Homo sapiens: one gene and its partners. The protein of the gene in region 3 purifies or fractionates together with the protein of the main gene of each other region. This does not show direct contact. Each region holds a gene or a part of one and is shown on either strand. Other genes may lie near its edges.

Region 1 (3,584 bases), on a different chromosome or scaffold from region 3:
GAGGTGCCCTCCATTGTATAGGCCCTAGCAGCCAGCAGCACCCCTGCCAGCCAGGGTGCAGTGTAGGCTGGTGGAGAGGGGTAGGTGGGCAGAACAGCACTGCCCTATCTTTGCATATGCCGGACAAACGCCTGCACCAACTGGATCAGAGGCTCCTGACTCTCAGGGCTGGCTTTGGAGAGAGAGGTGGACTTGCCCTGCGGCGAGGGGAGGACACCAGTGGCAGGGGAGCTGGGGGCTCCCCGGCGGAAGTAGCGCGAGAGGCTGGACAGCAGCGTGCTCTACAAGAAAAAAAGTGGCTTGGTGAGGCTCAGCACATCTGGCTACTGTTCTGACCCTTGGGGGTTGCCAGGCAGGACCCCACAGGGCTCTGGCCCTATTGGTCCAGCCCTCCGTATCCCTATCCATCCGTACCAACTCAGAGCTGAGCTCCTGCTTCATCCGCTGTTTGTCCCGGGGGTGCACAGCCGGGTCCCTAAGGTACCGCATCGCCTGAGAGATGAGCAGGTAGAAGCAGTTTTCCATGGTAAACATCAGGAGGGACCTGGGAGGAGACACAGGTTTTTGGTACTGCTGCAGAGGGCCAGGCTGGCCAAGCTTGAGAACAGTGGGCCCATGACTGCCCCAGCCCCTTATCAAATCCCAGAAAGAGCACTTACTTTAACGTCCTGGTCCCTTCTGCCTGTGTGCTGAGCCCCACTGCCTGGGTGAGGGGCTCCTTTTTCTTGTCCAGCTGAAGAGAAGCAAGGGTAAAAAACTAAGACAACAGGAACAGCTCCCACTTACTGAGAGCTTCCTACTTGCATGTCCTGCACTAAGCAAATTTAATCAGTTACCTCATTTAATCCTCACAGTAATTCTCAGAGGTGCTGTCATGTTCAGTTTACAGAGAGGAGCAGGCTTGGGAGGCTAGGTACCATGCCCAACATGCCCAAGGTCAGCTGGGAAGTGGCAGGCAGGGGGAGGAGCCGGGGGGAGAGGACAGTGTCTGACAGAACCAACTTACCTCTCCAAGCATGTTGAGGGCCACATTCACTGTGGCCAGAAGGGTCCCGAAGGAGGGGGCCACTTCGGAGTCAAAGGTGGGAGTGGTAAAGCTCAGGGCAAACAGGAAGTTGTATTCAGCAAGGTCCAGGGACTGCGAGAAAAGACAAGAGCCATCCAGGACCCAATTAAGGCCCCAGGTAGCTCTCGGTACACAGCAGAGCAGAGCCTTTAGGGGAGGTGGTGCTGAACAGATGATGGGCAGTACCTGATCCAGCAGAATCTGGCAGACATCTGGGGTGAAGTGGCGCAGGGCTGCCAGCGTCTTGCTGAGGATCTTGAGAAGGCCATACTGGACTGTGTGCAAGGCCTGCTGCTCTGATGCCTCTGTGTCAGCAGCGGGCTGCTTTGAGGAGGAGGGGGCAGCAGAAGCAGCAGACGGTGGCCTCTGGACTCGCTGGGCAACAGCTGAGGGGAGGCCATCCCCATTTTTGTTCTAAGGAGAGTCAAGAAATGAAGGTGGAGCTTGGGAAGCTAGCGTGAGGTATTCCAGGACCTCATGGCATAGGACGCTTACCTGTAAGTAATGCTGCAGCATCTTTCGACTGTGCAGGAGAGAGGTACATGCCTGGCACAAGTAACCCAGGTTGACCTGGGAGAGACACAGGAGAGATGAGCGGATTCTCTTGTCAGCAGCCCAGTCACCCAACCAGACCAACCCAATAGCCCTCCATGTAACACCCATGCGCTCCTCACTCGCTGCTGCTCTTCTCTCCCTCCTTCCCTCATGCTCCCCTTCTCTCCCTCCTTCCCTCATGCTCCCCTTCTCTCCCTCCTTCCCTCATGCTCCCCTGGCCACTTTCCAGCTTAAAGCCCCTATAGCCACTAAGTACTCAGGGCTACAAACTTGGGCCAGCAGGGCTCAGGACTGGACTGTCTCCCTGAGACCCAGCTAGGTGCCTGGTATATTGTAAGGTCCTAAAGTAAAGAAGATGAGGCCGGGTGCGGTGGCTCATGCCTGTAATCCCAGCACTTTTGAGGTCGAGGCAGGCGCATCACGAGGTCAGCAGATCGAGACCATCCTGGCTAACACGGTGAAACCCTGTCTCTACTAAAAATACAAAAAATTAGCCGGGCGTGGTGGCGGGCGCCTGTAGTCCCAGCTACTCGGGAGGCTGAGGCAGGAGAATGGCGTGAACCCGGGAGGCGGAGCTTGCAGTGAGCCGAGATGGCACCACTGCACTCCAGCCTGGGCGACAGAGCAAAACTCTGTCTCAAAATAAATAAATAAATAAAATAAGATGAGGATTATGGCTGATTCCATTTTATAGGAAAAGAATAAAAGGTTACAAGTAACAAGTGACTTGGCCAAGGTCATACAACCAGCAGATAAGAGAAGCCTGCCTGGCTCTGGAGCCTGTGTTCCTTCCTCACCCCTCCCTTCTCCAGCTGGTTCCCAGCTCCAGTTGTGTGTGTTTTTTTGGTTTTGTTTAGTTTAGTTTTTTTTTTTTTTTTTTGAGACGGAGTCTCACTTTGTCACCAGGCTGGAGTGCAGTGGCGTGACCTCGGCTCACTGCAACCTCCACCTCCTGAGTTCAAGCGATTCTCCTGCCTCAGCCTCCCGATCCTGAGTAGCTGGGACTACAGGCGTGTGCCACCACACCCAGCTAATTTTTGTTATTTTTAGTAGAGATGGGGTTTCACCATGTTGGCCAGCCTGGTCTCGAGCTCCTGACCTCATGATCCTCCCGCCTTGAATTCCCAAAGTGCTGGGATTACAGGCGTGAGCCTATTGCACCCGGCCATTTTTTTTTTTTTTTCTTTTTGGGACGGAGTCTCGCTCTGTCACCCAGGCTGGAGTGTAATGGTTCGATCCTAGCTCACTGCAACCTCCGCCTCCCAGGTTCAAGCGATTCTCCCAACTCAGCCTCCCGAGTAGCTGGGATTACAGTCACGTGCCACCACGCCCAGCTAATTTTTGTATTTTTAGTAGAGACAGGGTTTCACCATGTTGGCCAGGCTGATCTCGAACTCCTGACTGCCTCCCAAAGTGCTAGGATTACAGGCGTGAGCCACCATGCCCGGCCCCAAGTGTATTCTTAAGGGATCTGAACCAAGATCTAACTGATAAAAGTCCAAATTCTTAACCTACATGGCTGCCCTTGACTATGGAAGGAAACATTTAGCCAGAGTAAGCACATGACAGCAAACCCTGTGCTCCCCAAGGGAAAAGCCCCCGTTCAGGAACATCCTGCAATTCACTAGGAGTGCCCCAGTGAGACCTCACAGCCTCCCTGTCTCCAAGCATTACCCCAGACTCCAAGACACCATCTTGGGCCCCCACCTGGATATCACGCATGAGCTGAGGCAGGTGGAAGTGCCACTCCTTCATGAAGTTAGAGAGCTGCAGAATAAAACCCACGGTGTGGTCCGCCTCCTCCAGGCAGGCCAGACTCTGCACTGTCCTCACTGCGTTGAGGCACTGGGAGGAAAGCACACATCAGGGAAAGATGGGGATGGCTGAGGGACCTGACATACCCACACCTACCCTCCTGTGGAGAGGCAACGTCCCAGGCCCCCAAATGCTGAGTTGGCAAAGA
Region 2 (3,584 bases), on a different chromosome or scaffold from region 3:
TAGGAATGATAATAATGCTAATCATTTAAAAGTTTTTGAGGCCAAGTGCAGTGGCTCATGCCTGTAATTGCAGCACTCTAGGAGGCTGAGGCAGGTGGATCACGAGGTCAGGAGTTCAAGACCAGCCTGGCCAACATGGTGAAACTCTGTCTCTACTAAAAATACAGAAAAGTTAGCCAGGCATGGTGGCGGGCACCTGTAATCCCAGCTACTCGGGAGGCTGAGGCAGAGAATTGCTTGAACCCAGGAGGCAGAGGTTGCAGTGAGCCAAGATCATGCCACTGCACTCTAGCCTGGGCTACAGGGCGAGACTCTGTCTCCAAAAAAAAAAAAAAAAAGTTTTTGAAGAGTGAAATGAAATAACATATACAAATGACTTATACAGAGCCTGCTGCATATTTTTAAATAATATTAATAGTGTTGTTGCTTTTATTATTGTTGTAGATATCATCATCATCATTAGAATCTTGTCCTGATTTCCTAGTTCAAAGAGTAATTTCTGCAAAATCTGACTTAGCCTGCTTCTGGTCATCCACATCTGATATAAGTAGTTTGATTAAACATTGAATGATTTCAGCCTTACTGATTTTTGTTATTGTTCAAGAAACAATAGCTTGTGTTTTGTAATAGTCTTTCTCCCCTTCATTCCCGCTTCATTTCAGTTGGTGGGTTACTACAATCAAAATTTACAAGTGGAGCTTTTCTTTCACCAAGTGTCTCTGTGCAAGAATGTCGTACTCCCAGAGCAGCATCTTTAATGAATATCCCATCCACATCCTCTTGGTCTGTCCCTCCACCCCTGACTTCTGTGTTCACAATGCCCAGCCCAGCCCCTGAGGTTCCGTTGAAAACAGTGGGTACACGTAGGCAACTAGGCCTAGTCCCTCGTGAAAAGTCTGTCACCTATGGCAAGGGAAAACTCTTGATGGACATGGCCCTATTCATGGGACGCTCATTTCGTGTTGGTTGGGGCCCCAACTGGACTCTTGCTAATAGTGGAGAACAGCTGAATGGCTCTCATGAACTAGAAAATCATCAGATTGCCGATTCCATGGAGTTTGGATTCCTGCCCAATCCAGTAGCTGTTAAACCGTGAGTCACATTTCTTGATGCTTTTTGAGAAAGGCAACATGATAGGTGAAAAAAACTAATCAGGAGGATAGGGCCCTGCTTTGTCATCTTTCTAGAGAGAGAGAGAGAGAGAGAGAGAGAGAGAGAGAGAGAGAGAGAGAGAGAGAGAGTGTGTGTGTGTGTGTGTGTGTGTGTGTGTGTGTCTCAGTTTTGCTCTGTTTCCCCGGTGTGTGTGTGTGTGTTTTTGAGTCTCAGTTTTGCTCTGTTTCCCAGGCTGGGGTGCGGTGGCACGATCTCAGCTTGCTGCAACCTCTGCCTCTCAGTCTGAGGCTCTTCTCCTGCCTCAGCCTCCTGATAAGCTGGGATTACATGCACACGCCACCACACCCAGCTAATGTTTCCTGAGCTCAAGTGATTGTCCTACCTTGGCCTCCCAAAGTGCTGGGATTACAGTCATGAGCCACCTTGCCCAGCCTATCCTTCATTTTTAAAGTTGACTTTGAAAAAATAAAAAACAACCTGTAATCCCAGCACTTTGGGAGGCCAAGATGGGCGGATCACGAGGTCAGGAGATTGAGACCATCCTGGCTAACACGGTGAAACTCTGTCTCTACTAAAAATACAAAAAAAATTAGCTGGGCGTTGTGGCAGGCGCCTGTAGACCCAGCTAGTCAGGAGGCTGAGGCAGGAGAATGGTGTGAACCCGGGAGGCGGAGCTTGCAGTGAGCTGAGATCGCGCCATTGCACTCTAGCCTGGGCAACTGAATGAGACTCAGTCTCAAAAAAAAAAAAGAGAGAAAAGAAAAAGAAAAAACAACAATGTCTCTTGAACCTCACAATTAAGAATACTGATCCTAAACTTAGTTATTCTAGGTTAAGCATTATCTTGTGAATTTTGAAGGTTATTAATATCAATCTTAAAAATTAGATCAAGGGGCCGGGTACGGTGGCTCACACCTGTCATCCCAGCACTTTGGGAGGATCACTTGAGGTCAGGAGTTCGAGACCAGCCTGGCCAACATGGTAAAACCCTGTCTCTACTAAAATTACAAAAATTAGCCCAGGGTGGTGGTGCATGTTTGTAATCCCAGCTACTCAGGAGACTGAGGCAGGAGAATCGCCCTTGAACCCAGGAGGCAGAGGTTGCAGTAAGCCAAGATCACGCTACTGCATTCCAACCTCAGCGACAGTGTGAAACTCCATCTCAAAAAAAAAAAAAAAAAAAAAATTGGAACAAGCCTAGCTTAGCTATATGCTCATTGTAATTTAGAATCAGTTCTTTAGTATCTAGAAGCTTAGCCTCATGACTTTTGATACCCAAGTATAATTTGAGAAACAGGTATCCCACAATAGCTTTTGGCCCTTGAGTTTTAGCCAGTTCTAAATCTGTTAGGATTCTCATGCTTGTTATAACCTGGCCTAAGAAGCCTTTGTGTTCTGAATGCACTGATCAGATGATTTTTTTTCCCCAGTATATAGCAGATAAGTTCAGTATAGTTTAAGAAACAAAATTTCTTTAAAACTACAGTGAAATGTTTGCATTCCGTTTGTAATCATAAAAAGAAACAGTGGTTTGGTTGAAGTAAAAATCCTAGCTTCTGTCTTAGGTTCATTTTCTATTCTATTCCTCATTTGCTCTTGTAGCCTAACTGAGTCCCCATTCAAAGTTCACTTAGAAAAACTCAGTTTGAGACAAAGAAAGCCAGATGAAGACATGAAATTATATCAGACACCTCTGGAGCTCAAATTAAAACACAGCACTGTCCATGTGGATGAACTGTGTCCTCTCATTGTCCCCAATCTGGGAGTTGCTGTCATTCATGACTATGCAGATTGGGTTAAAGAAGCATCAGGAGACTTACCAGAAGCACAAAGTGAGTACACACTATGTTTCTAATGTTTGATGTCCCAATAATAGTGGTGGTAGCGTATGTTCACGGGAGGATGAATTTCCTGGCACCAGTCTAGTAGGTAAATGCCTGTGCTTGTCATTTTCTGAGGTTGAGTTTAACTAAGCAGATTCCCAAGCAAGAAGAAATTGTCACTATGTTCTTGTCACTTTGTTCTTTTACCCATTAATGTACAAATTCTTCCACAAAGAACTGTAGCAAGTCAAATCCTTGGATTTATAAAATTGAATTTCTTACCTAATCCAGAGAACATAGGGAGAGAAATACATTCCTTCTTGCTTTACTTTTTTTTTTTTTTTTTTTTTGAGACGGAGTCTCACTCTGTCACTGTAGCTGGGAGTATAGGCGCGCGCCACCACACCCAGCTAATTTTTGTATTCTTAGTAGAGACAGGGTTTCACCATATTGGCCAGGATTGTCTCGATCTCTTGACCTCGTGATCTGCCTGCCTCGACTTTCCAAAGTGCTGGGATTACAGGCGTGAGCCATCGAGCCCGGCCCCTTCTTGCTTTTCTAAATCCTATCCATTCTTCCATATCCAGCTCAAGTACTGTTGGTCTTCTCAACAGCTTTGTTGTAATTCCTCTTCCTGGCTTCTTTCAA
Region 3 (5,208 bases):
CATATGCTTATTTACCATTCATGTATCTTCTTTTGTGAAAGGTCTATCCAAGGTCCCCCCCCCTTTTAAGGTGAGGTTAACTTATAAAATTAATAATTTCAGAGTAAACAATTAATTGGCATTTACTTCATTTACAGTGTTGTGTAACTACCACCTTTTTCTAGTTCTAAAACATTTTTATTATTCCAAAAGGAAACCCCATCTCTTGCTTTTAAGCCTAATATATTTCATATGTACTTTTCTATATCTTTAAAGGCTTTTTATTAACAGCCAATAAATATACCATTTTGCTTAACTAGTGGATATTTCAGTTTCCATTTTATTGTGATGAGCATCTTTGTGCAAACCTTATTCTTTAGATTGCATTTTACTGTAAATCTAATAAAACTTATCTGCCTTAGTGTGCATTTTTAATTTTATAGCCCTGTATAAGTAAGAATTAAAGATGATACAGAAAAGACTGGACAAAACAAGGTTAAAAAAAAAGGGTGCAAAATGTACCTTTAGTTGGTGACATTGTTACCATGTAGAAGTTATTGGTTAAACTATTTTTATGTTGTTGAATGTAAAAAATGTTAGCTATACAGTGTGAAACACATTTTCTGAATGTTATTTGTTATTATACAGTATTTTCCCTGAGAAGCACCTAGCAAATTCTTTTGATGGTGAAATTCTTTAAGACCTTTGTATCCCTTCTCCAGCCACCTCCCCTCCCACCCCTTGGCCAACAGGAGGGGTGTAAGGATTTGGGCTTCCCCATATTTGCTCTTCCTACAATAGTCTGTTATCGATAGACTGTATTGTCAGTTAAAATCATTTAAGCATTCTATGGCTATAATCTCTATATATTGTTAGACTTTTGAAGCAAATAATTTTTTTTTGGAGACAAGTTCTTGCTCTGTCACCCAGGCTGGAGTGCAGTGGCACAATCTTGGCTTACTGCAGCCTCAACCTTCCAGGCTGAAGTGATCCTCCCACCTCAGCCTCCCAAGCAGCTGGGACCGTAAGTGCATACCACCACACCTGACTAATTTTTTGTATTTTTTGTAGTGATGGCATTTTGCCATATTGCCCAGACTGGTCTTGAACCCCTGGGCTCAAGCAGTCTGCCCACCTCAGCCCCCTAAAGGGCTGAGAAGACAGGCGTGAGCCACTATGCCTGGTTGAATCAAATGAAAAAAAAGTATTTTTTTGATTGAGCTATAATTTACATATCATAATGTGCACCCATTTAAAGTGTACAATTTAGTGATTTTAAGTATATTCATTTAATTGGCAACCACCACCACTTCTAATTTCAGAACATTGTTTACCACCTCTAAAGGAAACCCTGTGCTCATTTAGCAGTCACTTCTTGTTTACTCTGCTCCCAGCCGCTGGTAACCACTAATCTACTTTCTGTCTGTATGGATTTTGGAGCAAATAAATCTAATGTTATTTATTTTATTAGGTGGGTATTTTCTGTAGAAAGAATTTGCAAGTAAAATGGTGGACTTACAGAATCTTTGTTTCAAAGGTTGGTTACGCTAAACTCTGAAGCAACTCTCCAACTATCAGCACTGGAAGTAGTCAAGTTTATCTGGCTAGATTTTTCTTTTATTAGTAAAATGTCAGAAGAACTGGACTTCAGAAGCATTACAATCCTAAATATAGAATGTCTTCTAAAGGTTAAAACATTCTGGAATTTAACTTTTTATTTACATGTTATGTTGATCAGTTTTCTTCTCTCATAGAAGTAAAACTATATTCTGTTTCCTGATGTAAAACCAGTGTTTATGAAATATGAATAAGTATTTAGGAAAAAAGAAGCCCTGGGATAATGAGTATCTGTTCTTTTCTTTTTTTTTTTTGATTCCCCAGACACATAGTGGATCTGTATGGCGTGTGACATGGGCCCATCCTGAATTTGGGCAGGTTTTGGCTTCCTGTTCTTTTGACCGAACAGCTGCTGTATGGGAAGAAATAGTAGGAGAATCAAATGATAAACTGCGAGGACAGAGCCACTGGGTGAGACATTTATTAGTATTCTGGGGACCGGGAAGACATGAGCAGCCAAGGAGCATTCATCCGAAGGCTACCTCAGATAATTGGTAAAATATCACCACTCCCCTCTAGTTTTACCAGTTCTAAAGTTCTTTCTTCCATGTTTTTTTCTTCCTTTTTTATTTCATTTTAACTTGGGTCTGAAGCAATACTTAGGAGCATCACTGCATTGTTTATAACTTTTATGATGAATCCAGAATATTTGCATTGTATTTGATTTTACCTATTAGTATATTTTATGATAGTAATATATGATTTTAAAGTATTCTGGCTCACTGCAGTCTCAAACTCCTGGCCCCACCTCAGCCTCCTGAGTTGCTGAGATTATAGGCATGAGCCACTGTGCCTAACTCTAAAATTCTTTTTTTTTTTTAACTTTAAACTCTTAAGGGTTAATAAAATTCTTTTTTTTTTTTTTAGACGGAGTCTCACTGTGTCACCCAGGCTGGAGTGCAGTGGCACAATCTTGGCTCACTGCAAGCTCCGCCTCCCGGGTTCACGCCATTCTCCTACCTCAGCCTCCTGAGTAGCTGGGACTACAGGCGCCCGCCACCACGCCCATCTAATTTTTTGCATTTTTAGTAGAGACGGGGTTTCACTGTGCTAGCCAGGATGGTCTCGATCTCCTGACCTCGTGATCTGCCTGTCGGCCTCCCAAAGTGCTGGGATTACAGGCGTGAGCCACCACGCCTGGCCAAGGGTTAATAAAATTCTTTAAATTTTATTTAAATTTAAATAAATTTAATGGGCCAAATTCAGGATGGGCCCATGTCACACGCCATACAGATCCACTGTGTGTCTGGGGAATCAAAAAAAAAAAAAGAAAAGAACAGATACTCATTATCCCAGGGCTTCTTTTTTCCTAAATACTTATTCATATTTCATAAACACTGGTTTTACATCAGGAAACAGAATATAGTTTTACTTCTATGAGAGAAGAAAACTGATCAACATAACATGTAAATAAAAAGTTAAATTCCAGAATGTTTTAACCTTTAGAAGACATTCTATATTTAGGATTGTAATGCTTCTGAAGTCCAGTTCTTCTGACATTTTACTAATAAAAGAAAAATCTAGCCAGATAAACTTGACTACTTCCAGTGCTGATAGTTGGAGAGTTGCTTCAGAGTTTAGCGTAACCAACCTTTGAAACAAAGATTCTGTAAGTCCACCATTTTACTTGCAAATTCTTTCTACAGAAAATACCCACCTAATAAAATAAATAACATGGCTAACATGGTGAAACCCTGTCTCTACTAAAAATACAAAAAATTAGCCCGGCATGGTGGTGGGTGCCTGTAAGTCCCAGCTACTCTGGAGGCTGAGGCAGGAGAATGGTGTGAACCCGGGAGGCGGAGCTTGCAGTGAGCCGAGATCACGCCACTGCACTCCAGCCTGGGCGACGGAGCGAGACTTGTCTCAAAAAAAAAAAAAATTCTATAAAAATTGTTTCTTTTGTTTTGTGGTTACTTTTGTTTTCTTAGGAAATATACTGTCCTCGGCCGGGTGCGGTGGCTCACGCCTATAATCCCAGCACTTTAGGAGGCCAAAATGGACAGATCACCTGAGGTCAGGAGTTTGAGACCAGCCTGACCAACATGGAGAAACTCCCCCTCTACTAAAAATACAAAAATTAGCTGAGCATGGTGGCACATGCCTGTAATCCCAGCTACTCAGGAGGCTGAGGCAGGAGAATCGCTTGAACCCGGGAGGCGGAGGTTGTGATGAGCAGAGATCGTGCCATTGCACTCCAGCCTGGGGAACAAGAGCGAGACTTCGTCTCAAAAAAAAAAAAATACACTCTCCTTTATCTACATCTGCTTTTATCGCTGTCTTTGCCTTATTGGATGTTTGAATTTGGGCAAGAACATAATATAATCTGTGTGCTGTTGAAGTTCCTCATCTATAAAGTGAAAACATTGAACTAGATTATATTTAAGACTCTTTCCAGCATTTTCATATGAAGGTATTATCATCTGCATGCTTTTTTTCCCCCTTTATGATTTGTTTTTTGTAATAGATAATCATGCACATGGTGTAAAATTCAAAAGAAACAAAAGGAAGTGTGTAGTGGGAGTGTCCTGCTATTACCCCTCACCTGCCCTCCCTAATGGCATGATACTACGTTAGAGCCAGTCACAGCTCATTGCAGTCTCAACCTCCTGGGCTCAAGTGATCCTCCCACCTTAGCCCCACAAGTAGCTGGGATCACAGGCATGCACCACAGGCTGATTTTTTTATTTTGTAGAGATGGGGTTTCACCATGTTGCCCAGGCTGGTCTTGAACTCCTGGACTGAAGCAATCCTCTCACCTCGGCCTCCCAAAGTGCTGTGATTATAGGCGTGAGCCACTACGAGGGCCATGATGCAATTTTTTATTGTGGTAAAATATGTATAACATAATATTCCTCATTTTAACTTTTTTTTTTTTTTTTTTTTTTTTTTTTTTTTTTTTTGAGACAGAGTCTTGTTCTGTCACCCAGGCTGGAGTGCAGTGGTGGGATCTCGGCTTACTGCATTCTCCGCCTCCGGGGTTCAAGCGATTTTCCTGCCTCAGTCTCCTGAGTAGCTGGGACTACAGGCATGTGCCACCATGCCTGGCTAATTTTTTTGTGTTTTTAGAAGAGACAGGGTTTCACCATGTTGGTCAGGCTGGTCACGAACTCCTGATCTCAAATGATTCTCCTGCCTTGGCCTCCTGAAGTGCTGGGATTACAGGCGTGAGCCACCATGCCTGGCCCATTTTAACTATTTGTAAATGGTATAATTCAGTAGAATTAATTACGTTCACAGTGCTGTGTACCCATCACTGTTATCTGTACTCAAAACTGTTCATCACTGCCAACATAAACTCCATATTTTTAAAGAATGCCTCCCCCTTCCTCCTCCCTCTACCCCCTATTCAACTGTCTGTCTATAAATTTGACTAGGTACTGCATGTAAGTGGAATCACAGTATTTGTCCATTTGCAACTGGCTTATTTCACTAAGTAAAATGTTTTCATGGTCTGTCCATTTTGTAGCATATATTAACTTTATTCCTTTTTATGGCTGAGTAATATTCCATTGTGTGTGTATACCACATTTTGTTTATCCATTCATTTGTAGATGGACCCTTGGGTTGTTTCTACTTCGTGGCTATTGTGAATACTGCTACTATGAGCAT
Region 4 (3,584 bases), on a different chromosome or scaffold from region 3:
CCATCTCTACTAAAAATACAAAAAAATTAGCCGGGCATGGTGGCAGGCGCCTGTAGTCCCAGCTACTTGGGAGGCTGAGGCAGAATGGCGTGAACCTGGGAGGCAGAGCTTGCAGTGAGCTGAGATCGCACCACTGCACTTCAGCCTGGGTGACAGAGCAAGACTCTGTCTCAAAATAAAAAAAATAAAAAAATAAAAAAATAAAAAATTAGCTGGGCGTGGTGGCGTGCGCCTGTAATACCAGCTACCCGGGAGGCTGAGGCAGGAGAATTGCTGGAACCTGGGAGGCAGAGGATGCAGTGAGCTGAGATCGTGCCACTGCACTCCAGCCTGGCTGACAGAGCGAGACTCTCAAAAAAAAAAAAAAAAAAAAAAAAAAGTACATTTCAAAAAATAGAAAGAACATTACAGCTTCTGCAGGTCAGTGTAGTCATCAAATATTGCAACACAATGATACCACATTCCTACGTCCTTTCACTCGGCCTCTGATGCTGAAAGAAGATTTGCATCTGGAAAGTGGCTTTTCATCATTAGCTTGCTTCATTCATACACTATTGTTTGTCTTTTGAGTTGAGTAAAAGATACAAGAAACATTTTATTTCTCACCTTGTCTATACTGAGCACAAACATTGGAAAGGTCCACTTGATTGCTAATTTTTTGATATTCCTTTAATGATTCCCTTAACATTCTTTCTTTTTCAGTCTTATTTTGAACTTGTCGGGAACGCTGGAGAAGCTCATTTGCCTAGAAGAGGAGATAACAAGAACTTAAAAATATATAAAATCAAGCAGACAGATGATGCTGTCAACTAAGTTTTAGTCTATGTCTAAATTTATATATGGTTATTACCATTAAAATGAAAACAACTCTACAAACTTACTTCTTAATTTTAGGCAGAAAAGTTTTTGACCAAAGATTCCTAGCTATTCTTAATTCCTCTCCCAAATATGTTAAGCAAGAGAACTTTTGTCTGGTAATTCTCTTGCCTAGTCAATACATTATTGGGCAGCAGGCAGTCCATGTGACACTGATTTATTTATTTTTTCCACCTGTAGGAAAGGATCAATAAAAATGCCCCCATTAACTCTAATTCACTAAAAGATTTACTTGAAGTTTTAGTACTTTTCCTTAAGCTAAGGAGATAAATTATCCCCTAAATTTCCTTAATTTCTAAATTTAGTGATTTTTCTTAATTTCTCACCTTTGGTTTTTTAATATGGCCTAGAAACACTATCAAAGATTCTTTATGGGCCAGGCGCAGAGGCTCATGTCTATAATCCCAACACTTTGCAAGGCTGAGGCAGGCGGAGGTCAGGAGTTCAAAACCAGCCTAGACAACATGGTGAAATCCTGTCTCTACCAAAAATATAAAAAATTAGCCAGGTGTGATGGTGCACACCTGTAATCCCAGCTATTTGGGAGGCCGAGGCAGGAGAATCACTTGAACCTGGGAGGTGGAGGTTGCAGTGAGCTGAGATCGTACTCAGTCTTAAAAAAAAAGAGAGAATATTCTTTATGAAAAACTTAAAGGAGGGCTGGGCATGGTGGCTCACACTTATAATCCCAGCACTATGGGAGGCTGAGGCAGGAGGATCACTTGAAGCCAAGAGTTCAAGACCAGCCTGTGCAACAAATCAGAACTTGTCTCTATAAAAAACAAAAAAATTGGCTGGGTGTAGTGGTGCACACCCGTAGCCCCTAGCTACATGAGAGGCCTGCTTGAGTCTAGGACTTAGAAGCTGCTGTGAGCTATGATCACAGCACTGCACTACAGCCTAAGCAACAGAGTGAAACCCTGTGTCAAATAAATAAATAAAAATATTTTTAAAAAGAAAAGCTAAGCTTAAAAGAGTATACACTGGTTTTAAGAAGCCACATATTCCAACCCCTTTCTTAGATGAGGATTCTGAGGCTAGGAGAGGTTAAGAGATCTAACTGACTGAGGTCCTATATTAAGTGAAACAAGATGGTTCATCATACATGATACCTCTTATAACAAACAATGAAATAGGTAATAAAGTATCATACCTTAGAACAAATTGCATCATCAGTGCTATATAGAAGTGGGCAGATATCCTGTAAATGTAAACTAATGCCATCAACAGCGGCATTATCTCTGATGTAGCAGTTGATAAGAGAAGCAATTAATGCCCCTGTGAGTTCTTTGTCCCTGATTACAAGATCTTTAAAGGTGGTGATCTTCAGCTGCTCTTGAAGTTCCTAGGAGCATAAAACTTTTCTATCACAATTATAGAAATACCATATTTCTAAACATAATGAAATTATTTTAATAAATTAAAATAACCTAAATATTAATAGACTCTATAATTGAAAAGCGAAAATATACTAATTAGTAGAAACAAATTTTTGCGAACTTACATAAAATCATAGAGAGTTGGAAAAGAACCTACAGTAGATCTAGTCCAAAACTCTCACTTTCCAAATGAGAAAAGTAAAGCTTAAGTAGAGCCAAAACTAGAGTCAGATCTCCTGGCTTTGGTTATAAAATGGAAAAAACAATCACTTGGCTATATTTGAAAATCTTGGGCTTACATATTACTCCTTCCTAAACACTGTTAGAATTCCATTATTCTAGGCCTTATAATAATATTGGAGTTTAATCTGTATTGTGAACAAATCTGCTTGTCCAAATGAAGCTCTAAAGTATTGATTTATACTATAGTAAAAGATTCTGTTAGTGATGTGACTGCTATCTCTTTTTTCTAAATTCAAGGAAATACCCAAACTGTGTTAAAATTCTTGAACAAATCTTTAATTTGCATTCATTGAGCATGCCATTGGTGATGTAAGGAAGAGAGCTTTGAAGATGGATCACAAAAACATACCCAGGATAAAAACCTACCTACAATATATTTATCACTCTATAAAACTCAAAATTATTATTCTACTTGGTATGAAAAAGATAAGTTTCATAATTAAATATATTAGCTTGAATTTTTAAAAATAAAAAACAGTATGTATTTAAAAGAAACAAAACCACCAACAAAAGCCACACTATTCATTGGACACTAGTGGAAAGAATGAGGAGACTGCCTTCCAACGTTGAAAAATGGTATACGAGAGTCAAAAAGTAAGTGTTTCAGAGTAATGAAATATCCATACAGGACAAGGAAAAAGAATTTTTTTTTTTTTTTTTACAGAATTGCAGCTAGTAACTGGGGAAGGAATCACAGATTTAAAATATTATCCTTTTGGCCGGGCATGGTGGCTCATGCCTGTAATCCCAGCACTTTGGGAGGCCAAGGCAGGTAGATCACCTGACGTCAGGAGTTCAACACCAGCCTGGCCAACATGGCGAAACCCGGTCTCTTACTAAAACTACAAAAATCAGCCAGGCGTTGTGGCACATGCCTGTAGTCCCAGCTACTCGGGAAGCTGAGGCAGGAGAACTGCTTGTACCCGGGAGGTGGAGGTTACAGTGATCTCAGATTGCTCCACAGCACTCCAGCCTGGGTGACAGAATGAGACACTGTCTCAAAAAAAATAAAAAACAAACAAACAAATAAATAAATATTACCCTTTTGTAATCCTAAATGAAATAATAAATTCCAGCAATGATTAT

Evidence for each region. The genes of interacting proteins can lie anywhere in the genome.
Region 1: the proteins of SEH1L (region 3) and NUP188 purify together in Homo sapiens (affinity purification with mass spectrometry; one large-scale study listed by BioGRID and IntAct). This does not show direct contact.
Region 2: the proteins of SEH1L (region 3) and NUP98 fractionate together in Homo sapiens (co-fractionation; 3 studies listed by BioGRID and IntAct, with this or other methods). This does not show direct contact.
Region 4: the proteins of SEH1L (region 3) and NUP155 purify together in Homo sapiens (affinity purification with mass spectrometry, with the first as the bait; one large-scale study listed by BioGRID). This does not show direct contact.

What each region holds. Positions count from the first base shown.
Region 1 is NC_000009.12:129,003,199-129,006,782, reverse strand, and holds part of NUP188 (nucleoporin NUP188), read right to left. Parts: intron 3,467-3,584; coding exon 3,329-3,466; intron 1,637-3,328; coding exon 1,562-1,636; exon of another isoform or gene 1,486-1,561; intron 1,481-1,485; coding exon 1,253-1,480; intron 1,139-1,252; coding exon 1,007-1,138; intron 734-1,006; coding exon 660-733; intron 545-659; coding exon 415-544; intron 304-414; exon of another isoform or gene 282-303; coding exon 105-281; 3' UTR 1-104. UniProt on the Homo sapiens protein: Component of the nuclear pore complex (NPC), a complex required for the trafficking across the nuclear envelope. Required for proper protein transport into the nucleus.
Region 2 is NC_000011.10:3,699,971-3,703,554, reverse strand, and holds part of NUP98 (nuclear pore complex protein Nup98-Nup96 isoform 1 precursor), read left to right. Parts: intron 1-662; coding exon 663-1,092; intron 1,093-2,715; coding exon 2,716-2,945; intron 2,946-3,584. UniProt on the Homo sapiens protein: Plays a role in the nuclear pore complex (NPC) assembly and/or maintenance. NUP98 and NUP96 are involved in the bidirectional transport across the NPC. May anchor NUP153 and TPR to the NPC.
Region 3 is NC_000018.10:12,953,603-12,958,810, forward strand, and holds part of SEH1L (nucleoporin SEH1), read left to right. Parts: intron 1-1,860; coding exon 1,861-2,007; intron 2,008-5,208. UniProt on the Homo sapiens protein: Component of the Nup107-160 subcomplex of the nuclear pore complex (NPC). The Nup107-160 subcomplex is required for the assembly of a functional NPC.
Region 4 is NC_000005.10:37,308,523-37,312,106, forward strand, and holds part of NUP155 (nuclear pore complex protein Nup155), read right to left. Parts: intron 2,222-3,584; coding exon 2,030-2,221; intron 1,051-2,029; coding exon of another isoform or gene 1,000-1,050; exon of another isoform or gene 901-999; intron 746-900; coding exon 607-745; intron 1-606.